2 linked regions of the Homo sapiens genome follow. The protein of the gene in region 2 purifies or fractionates together with the protein of the main gene of each other region. This does not show direct contact. Each region holds a gene or a part of one and is shown on either strand. Other genes may lie near its edges.

Region 1 (3,341 bases), on a different chromosome or scaffold from region 2:
GCCTCTTAGCCATTCCTGGCCCAGTTGAGCCCAGCACACTAAAGATGCCAGCTCTGGGGCCCCAGGATACTGAGCCCTCGCTGTGGCCCACCCCATTTCCGCACTTCACCCCAAAGAGGTGGTGTCTCTGCATGGTGGGTCCTCGCTGTGGCCCGCTCCATTTCCACGTTTCACCTCCAAGAGGTGGTGTCTGTATGTGGTGGGTCTTTTTTTATGGGGTCTGGGTTGGCCTTGCCCTGTACGTGCCTAAGTCTGTCCACTCCACCAGCTGGGCCCTTCTGAGCGCCTGTGGGGAGGGGTGCCGGGGCTCTGCCCTCGTTTGCTGGATGCAGCCTCCGTGGCTGTGCAGTTTGTACCTGGTCGTGGGAGGGGCCGGTGAGCCTCGTGTTCACCCTGAGGAAGCCACTGCCAGAGGGGCCAACCCCGCCCCTTTCACCAGTCTCTGGACAGAGCCTGGATGTGAAGATGCTGCTTTTAAAGATGGAGATTGGCAAAGGACGTCGTCACCTGGCAGCGCCTCAGGACGCTGCTCACTGTGCGGGTAGCAGGCGGTTCCCTCATCTCAGGTCTGTGTTGCAGGGACTGTTTCAAGGCCTTCTACGTCCACAAGTTCAGAGCCATGCTGGGCAAGAACCGGCTCATCTTTCCAGGCGAGAAGGTAGCGTCTGGGTCCTGGGGGTCTGACTGAGCAGCCTGGCCCCTCGAGGTCCCTGCTTGTCCCTCCCACAGGCAGCCTGGCCTGCTGCAGCCCGCCAGCTCCTCCTTGGCCTTTGAGGACAGACTCGATGTCCTAGATGTCCACGAGGTGGGGTGTCTGCCTGTGTTGGAGGTGCGGTGCCCTGAGTGATGTTTTTTCTCCCCCAGGTGCTCTTGGCGTGGTCTGGGGGGCCTTCGTCCAGCTCCATGGTCTGGCAGGTTCTTGAGGTGCGTGTTCACCACCCCGTGGGCCCGGGCTGCTGGGCTGAGCTTCAGGCTGGGGGCCTCCCTTCTCAGCCTGCTGAGGGGCTCTTGGTTGGGGCTAGAGAGCAGTCCACCCTGCGGCCTGGACACTTGGGGGGTTCTCAGATGTGTTCACAACAGGTGCACCAATCAGGAGCTGAGTCCACAGTGTGTGTGTGCGGCCCACTCTCAGATGTGTTTACAGCAGGTGCACAAATCAGAAGCTGGGTCCACAGCGCGTGTGTGCGGCCCACTCTCAGATGTGTTTACAGCAGGTGCACAAATCAGAAGCTGGGTCCACAGTGCGTGTGTGCGGCCCACTCTCAGATGTGTTTACAGCAGGTGCACCAATCAGAAGCTGGGTCCAGAGTGCGTGTGTGCGGCCCACTTGACTTCTGTCCATTTGCTCAACCTGCGTAGAAACACAGTCAGTGGAAAGCTGCATCTTGGCTCAGCCATGTGTGACCCGAGGGAAGATTGGGAAAGGGGCGGGGGTTTGCCAGGAGAAGCAAAGGGAGCAGCGTTTGAGGTGGAGGCGGCGGCCCGCGCAGGGAGGTGGAGGCGGGCTTAGGCTGCACACAGGGCTCGGCTGGGGGTGGTGGGGCTGTGCCCGTGGCCTGTCAAGGGTCAGCTCAGGAAGTCTGAGGCAGGTCGGGCTTCTCAGGAGGGCACAGGAGCGGGATGTGCTTGGTTTCTCTGCACTCTCATGAGAGGTGCAGACCGGAGGAGGCTGTTTCTGTGGGCTGGGTGGTTGAGAGGAGAGGGGTCGGCTTTGCCGGGTTGAGGAGTGGGGTGTTGGTCTCAGGATGGGCGCATGGCACAACACTGCTGAAATTAGTTTTCTGTTTTCTGAGGTCCCCTGAACCTGCCAGGAGGGTGTTGTGAGGGAACTGGCCCAGCCCTCTGTGTAACGCTGGTGCTGCCCTTCCTGTGCCCAGCGGCGCCCCTGCCTCTTGCAGGCTGTTGGTTTCTGCTTGTGAGAGCAAGTGCTTCCTTAGTGGTCAGAAGCGTGTGGGATGGTGGCACAGTGGCCCCGTAACCCAGCCCCCTCTCCTGGGGCGTTGTTGGGACATCCAGGACCAGCTGGTGAGGGGCATGTTTTACCAGGGGGATGAAGACCCCCAGGCTACCCTTTAAAATAAGTCGGGCGTGCGGCCTCGCCTACTGGGCCTGCCCGGCACCTGAGTCTGAATGGCTTTGTCCAATAAACGCAATGGCAGGGGAAGACCACTTCACCTTCCAAGATGGCATTAAATCCAGATGAAGAATGTTCTGAGCTGGAAAAGTGTCCTGTGGCTTATGGCTGGGGGCTGAGTCCCTGCTGCTTCTCCCTCTAGGGCCTGAGCCAAGATTCTGCCAAAAGACTGCGCTTTGTGGCAGGAGTCATCTTTGTTGACGGTATGTGGGGCCATTGCTCCTCCTAGTCCCTGGCCACTTGGGGTAAGCCCTGCGGATCCTCCCTCTGGTGTGGACCCTCCCTCTGGTGCCGGTCCTCCCTCTGGTAGGATGTGTTGAGCTACTGGTGCTGCCCCTGCACTGAGGGCCTGGTGGGGACATCTCCCTGAAGGAGGCAGCAGATGTATCCATCGTTAGGTGGCATCACTGTTCCTGGAATCTAAGAACATCCTTAGAAAGTCGGGGGTGGGAGCAGGAGTGGCGGCTGCCCAGCCCCCATCACGGGGTCTGGGGACAAAGAAGGGCAAGTTAAGTGCTGATGGTGAGCGGGGGCCCAGGGGCCGACTCCCCGACCCTTGCTCCTGCAGAACGAACTCCTGGGGTGTTGACTGTAGCGCTGAGGTCAGCCGCAAGAGAGAAACCCCTGCCCAAAGGAAAATGGCCGACACCCCACAGCTCCGCCAGGAAGCACCGCCCTGCGGAGCGAGGCCTCGAAGGGTTTTCCCAGGTGGAGGTGGCCCTGCAGCCTGCCCTGCCTGGCTCCTCTCTGAGCCCTGACTCTTTCTGCCTGGGTTTTTCAGAGGGAGCAGCCTGTGGCCAGAGCCTAGAGGAGAGATCAAAGACCCTGGCCGAAGTGAAGCCCATTCTGCAAGCAACTGGGTTCCCATGGCATGTGGTGGCCTTAGAGGAGGTGGGAGGGCTGTCCCTGGAAAGGGGTCCCGGAGGTGACCCCTGGGGGGCACCTGCCCGTGTCCCAGCCTCACTGGCCTCTCCCTCATCCCAGAAGGCGGGGCTGTCGGTGGGGGGTGGGAGGCACCTGCCCGTGCCCCAGCCTCACTGCCGTCTCCCGCATCCCGGAAGGTGGGGCTGTCTGTGGGGGGCACCTGCCCGTGTCCCGGGCCTCACTGGCGTCTCCCTCATCCCGGAAGGTGTTCAGCCTGCCACCGTCGGTGCTTTGGTGCTCTGCCCAGGAGCTGGTGGGATCCGAGGGGGCCTACAAGGCGGCC
Region 2 (5,436 bases):
CCAGGCTGGAGAGGGAGCCAGGAAGAAAGTGAGGTAGCCTTGCGGGGGCTGGGGCTGGAATCCACCCCCTCCCATTAAGCAGGGTAGGGGGTGTGGATGCAGGGGAGGGGCTCAAAGCCCAGGACGGAGGGAAAGGCTGCTAGGCTTCAGGAGACCAGCCTGCCCGGAGACAGTTATGGACGCCCAAGGCAGCAATGGCAAAAGCAGGAATAAACGGTCACCTCCCTTCCCACAGCCCCTTTTTCTCAAGGCTGGACAGGCCTGCTCTGCCTAGAGAACAATTCATTTTGGCCCCAAGCCCTCAGGAGGCAGGAGGAAGGCAGGTGGCAGATCCCCTGGAAGGGGCCAGGCTGGGTGGCCAGAGGGACAATGGCCCAGAGCACAGGGCTCAGACCCCCTACAGCCAAGGTGGGCTCCAGTTGCAGAACAATCATTCCCAAAACAGTCACTGCCATCAGGGCAGCCTGCTGCTGCCACTGCCACTACCCACAGCCACACAGAGCCTTGGGCCAGCCCTGAACTTGGTGTCAGAGGCAGCCTGGGGTCTAGACACAGAGCAGGGACCTAGCTCTCTCTCAAGTGAGGGCTAAGGGCAGCAGGGCACGTGTGATCAGGATGGCCCCACCTCCTGGAGAGGTTAAGATTCCTCAGATGCAAAATGGGGGTGCCAATCTCCCTGAATGCCCCCAAACACTGGGAACACTGTAAGCACCAAACTCAATTCTCATATGGTCACCACTTCAACCTGTGACTAGGAGCCAGTCATTCAGCCTCAGTTTCCCCATCTGGTACCCTAGTCCCCCAAGTCTCAAATTCATAGCGCCTTGTTTCAGCACAGGGATGCATCTGTCTGGAACCCAGGCAAGGACTCTGGGGCACCCCATCTCTACCCCACCCATTGGTGCTCACTCCAGTTCAGCCACAGGGACTCCATGAAACCTTGTCACAGCCCCAAGAGACAGCCGGGCCTCTGTGACTCGCTCCCAGCGGAGGACACCATGGACCCAGAGCAGGGAGGCGAGTGGCTGGTGCAACTCGGTTAGCAGGTGGCAGAGTGAGGATGGGACTCATAGGAGATCCTGTCCAAGTAGCGGTGCAGGGGCCAGAGCTTTCTGGGCAGCCTCCAACCAGCTCAAGCCTTTTGCACACGGGCTGAAGGAGTCTGGGGTGTAGGACGTGGATCCCTGGACAGCAACCAGTCCCAAAGGAGGTGCTCACATGCACAAAGACAGGATAGAACCCCTTTAGACGGGACCCTTCAGACAGGACCAGGAGGAGAGAATGTCACACTCCAACGTTTGAGTCATGTCTGTACCACATATACTTTTAAGGTGGGGAGACAAAAACTGAACACGGATTTAAAATAAAGGTAAAAGACAAAGTTAGTTTTAAAACACCTTTACTGGCTGGGTGCGGTGGCTCATGCCTGTAATCCCAGCACTCTGGGAGGCTGAGGCAGGTGAATCACCTGAGGTCAGGAGTTCGAGACCAGCCTGGCCAGCACAGCGAAACTCTGTCTCTACTAAAAATACAAAAATTAGCCGGGCATGGTGGTGCATGCCTGTAATCCCAGCTACTTGGGAGGCTGCAGCATGAGAAATGTTTGAACCCAGGAGGCGGAGGTTGCAGTGAGCCGAGATCGTGCCACTGCACTTCAGCCTGGGTGACAGAGCGAGACTCCATCTCAAAAAAAAAAAAAAAAAAAAAAAGGCTGGGCGCGGTGGCTGACACCTGTAATCCCAGCACTTTGGGAGGCTGAGGCGGGTGGATCAGGAGGGCAGGAGATTGAGACCATCCTGGGTAACATGGTGAAACCCCGTCTCCACTAAAAACACACAAAAAAATTAGCCGGGCGTGGTGGCGGGTGCCTGTAGTCCCAGCTACTCAGGAGGCTGAGGCAGGAGAATGGCGTGAACCCCAAGAGGTGGAGTTTGCAATGAGACAATTGCACCACTGTACTCCAGCCTGGGCGGTAGAGCAAGAATCCGTCTCAAAAAAAAAAAAAAAAGCCGAGTGTGGTGGCTCATGCCTGTAATCCCAACACGTTGCACTTTGGGAGGCCGAGGCAGGCGGATCACCTGAAGTCGGGAGTTCAAGACCAGGCTGGCCAACATGGTAAAACCCCATCTCTACAAAAATACAAAAATCAGCCAGGTATGATGGTGGGTGCCTGTAATCCCAGCTACTTGGGAAGCTGAGGCAGAAGAATCGCTTGAACCCAGAGGCAGAGGTTGCAGTGAGCTGAGATCACACCACTGCACTCCAGCCTGGGCAATACAGCAAGACTCCATCACAAAAAAAGAAAGAAAGAAAGAAAAAAAACACCCTCATAGTCTCTTTCACTGGAGCACAGAGAAGGCAAGAAGTTTGGCCTTCACCTCCTGGCAGAGCTCCAAGGGAAGGCCTCTTCCCCCAGACTATCTGGCCAGGTCCCCTTGGCCCAGGCCAGGCCACCATTTTGTGAAGCCACACCACAGAGGTAGTCAGGTCTGAAGCCCGTTGCAAGATGGGGAAAGCAAGGTAGTCGGGATGGGAAAACGTGTTCAAAGTCGCATGCGGCTCCTGGGCGCAGCTTTATCCCCTTTTCCTCCCCTCCCTCCTTCAACTGCTGGAGGAAGAGCCCAGGAGCTCAGGCTTCGGTTTTGGCCGCCAGCCTTTGTCTGCCCCTGCCTGCCCTGTGCCCCGTTCTGATGTGAATATCACCCGAGGCCCTTCCCTCAAAGAGGAGGACCAGGGACATCACGAAGCACACACCCCAAGGACCCCGATCCAGCAGCTCCCCTTCTACTTGTGAGCGTCCCGAGGGCTGGGGCCATCTCCAGACCCCCTTCCTTAGAAAGGCAGTGGGACCAGGACCTCGTCATCACGCCTGTGCAATCCCGGCTCTACATTTTCCCGTCTGTGTGCCCTCGGGCAAGTCGCACCCTCCCTGTTTTCCCTTCTGCAAGGCCCTAGAGGCAACAGTGGGCAGCAGTGCATGGTGACCACAGCCCAGGCCCCTCCCTCTGGCAACGGACTTGTGACTTGCAGCCAAATCAGCTCTGCCGCCTGCCTCCCCTCCAGCCAGCACAGACTCCAACAGGGGCCCAGCTTTGGGAGAGGCTCTTTCAAACACCCCTCAGCCTCTGGCCAGGGCCTGGGGCCCCAAGGGCTCCTCGGGGAGCTATGTGTAGGCAACTTTATTCGGCCCCTGGGCCTGGGCAGTTCATGGAGATTCCTGAGCCTCAGGAAGGGGAAGGCGGGCTGGGGTTTTGCCCCCAGGGGGCACAGCGGGAGGGAACCCTGGGGACCTGTACCTGCTACTTGGGGCTGAGCTCAGCCGCTTGGCTCTCTTCTCCAGCCAGTCCTCCAGATGGCCCTCGGGGAGCTCAGGAGCATCTAGTAGCCACTCCCTGGCTCGCCTCTCCTCTGTGGGGACAGGGAGACAAAGGCAAGTGAGGGGTACACTCCTGCCTGCCAGAACCCTACCCTCTCACAAAGCAGAAGCAACTGGTAGGCCCTGAGCAAGCCTGGGAAGTTGCAGCAACCTTCCAGGAGGATGCACCTGGACTGCTTCTCCAGGCCATCTGTGCACGAGGGCCCAGCACTCGGCCTCGCTCTGTTTTCCCATCAAATAGAGACAACCCCGGCTGCCTCCAAGCTCTTGGGGAGCTGGAAACAGGACAGTGCTTGTAGAGAACCTGGCCCTGGCCAGGCGTGGTGGCTCACGTCTGTAATCCCAGCACTTTGGGATGCCAAGGCGGGCGGATCACCTGAGTCCAGGAGTTTGAAACCAGCCTGGCCAACATGGAGAAACCCTGCCTCTACTAAAAATAAAAATAAAAAAAATTAGCCATGTGTGGTGGTGGGTGCCTGTAATCCCAGCTACTTGGGAGACTGAGGCAGGAGAATCGCTTGAACCTAGGAGGTGGAGGCTGCAGTGAGCTAAGATCGCACCACTGCACTCCAACCTGGGCGGCAAGAGTGAAACTCCATCTCAAAAAAAAAAAAAGAGAGAGAGAGCCTGGCCCTAAGGAGGGGTCTGAATCTGAGGTGCAGGGAGGCAGTGAGGGCAGTCGAATGGGGTCACATCTCAGCTCTGTCACCTGCCGGGTCTTTGACCCTGGGCAGGGTAATGAGCCTCAGCTTCCCTGGTTTTTATTCTCATAAGCTGTCCAACAAAACCTGTTGCTCAACGAATTAAAACCAATCAACGAATGGAATTTATACAAGCTGGGTGTGAGCGTTTGATGGGGTCAGAGTCGCCAAGTCATCTGGGATGGAGTCTTGGGCCAGAGGAAAGTAATCATACACTTGACTAGCACTCACTCAGAGCCAGGCCCCAGTCTCTGGAGCTCACTCGGGGCCAGGCCTCGGTCTCTGGAGCTCACTCGGGGCCGGGCCCTGGTCTCTGGAGCTCACTTGGGGCCGGGCCCTGGGCTGTACAGGTGTCATCTTGCTTCATCCTTAGAGACATCACATTCGACAGGACACAGCCTCCAAGAGGTTAAGCCACGTACCAAGGTTACAGAGGACGTGGCAGAGCTGGGACTGTCAGAGCTGCCAGCTGGGACTCTGTTCCCAGCCTCCCTGGGCCTCTCCCCATTCCTGTCCCCGCTCGGCATCGTCTCCAGTTCCAGGCCCACTGCCCCGTGCTCGTCCCACCATGGGCCAGCCGTCCTCTGAGAGCCCATAGCCAGGGAAGAGCTGCAGCTGCCGCTGCTGCCAGGACTTGCTGGCCAGTCCCACAAGGCCTTGCTTCCACCCTGGGGAAAAATGCTCCTGGAAACCCTGTGTTGGTCCCGGGGCTGCAGCCACAGCACCACTGGCTCCCAGGGCAGGGCACGGAGCCTGCAGTGTCTAACTGGTCAGAGGGGAGTGAGGCCCGTAGGGGGATCAGGGCAAAGGCCAAGCTGCCCCAGACCTTCACTGGCTACCCTGAGGCCTCCTGGACAGAGAAGCTTAAGGGGGCAGGCACTGAGAGACCTGGAGTCTGCCCCCAACCTGCTGGGGGGCTCACGCGAGGCCTTTCAGTCTGAATGTTGGCCTTAGTTTCCCCACCTGTTCAGTGAGAGGCTGTGGAAGAAGATTGATAAACACCATCTCAGTCAGAACTTCCTTGTTCTCTAACTAGAGGAGTGAATTTCCCAAAGGCGAGATGTCAGTTTCCATGGAAGCTGAACTTGCCCCTCCCTGGAATCACCAGGCTGTGAGACTCCAGAGGGCAGGGAAGGTGCGTTCCTAAACTCCTTATCCCTAGACTGTCGTAAGGGGTCTGCTTGGTGCCAAGTGGGGACTGGGTATGCTGCCTGATTGAGGAAGGGATGGGGTGTACCCACCAATGACTGCTGGGCTGGCCACAGGGTCCAGGTGGGGCTGAGGTGCACCTTCAGGGCTCCCAGGCAGGAAGCCACACAGGCTCCACTGTAAGGGGACACAGGCCTGCCTTCTCCACTC

The links. Proteins that work in one complex are often made in the same cells at the same time.
Region 1: the proteins of ZMAT5 (region 2) and CTU2 purify together in Homo sapiens (affinity purification with mass spectrometry; 2 studies listed by BioGRID and IntAct, with this or other methods). This does not show direct contact.

The regions. Positions count from the first base shown.
Region 1 is NC_000016.10:88,709,359-88,712,699, forward strand, and holds part of CTU2 (cytoplasmic tRNA 2-thiolation protein 2), read left to right. Parts: intron 1-579; coding exon 580-658; intron 659-864; coding exon 865-924; intron 925-2,276; coding exon 2,277-2,337; intron 2,338-2,702; coding exon of another isoform or gene 2,703-2,915; coding exon 2,916-3,025; intron 3,026-3,263; coding exon 3,264-3,341. UniProt on the Homo sapiens protein: Plays a central role in 2-thiolation of mcm(5)S(2)U at tRNA wobble positions of tRNA(Lys), tRNA(Glu) and tRNA(Gln). May act by forming a heterodimer with CTU1/ATPBD3 that ligates sulfur from thiocarboxylated URM1 onto the uridine of tRNAs at wobble position.
Region 2 is NC_000022.11:29,735,034-29,740,469, forward strand, and holds part of ZMAT5 (zinc finger matrin-type protein 5), read right to left. Parts: intron 3,409-5,436; coding exon 3,297-3,408; intron 1-3,296.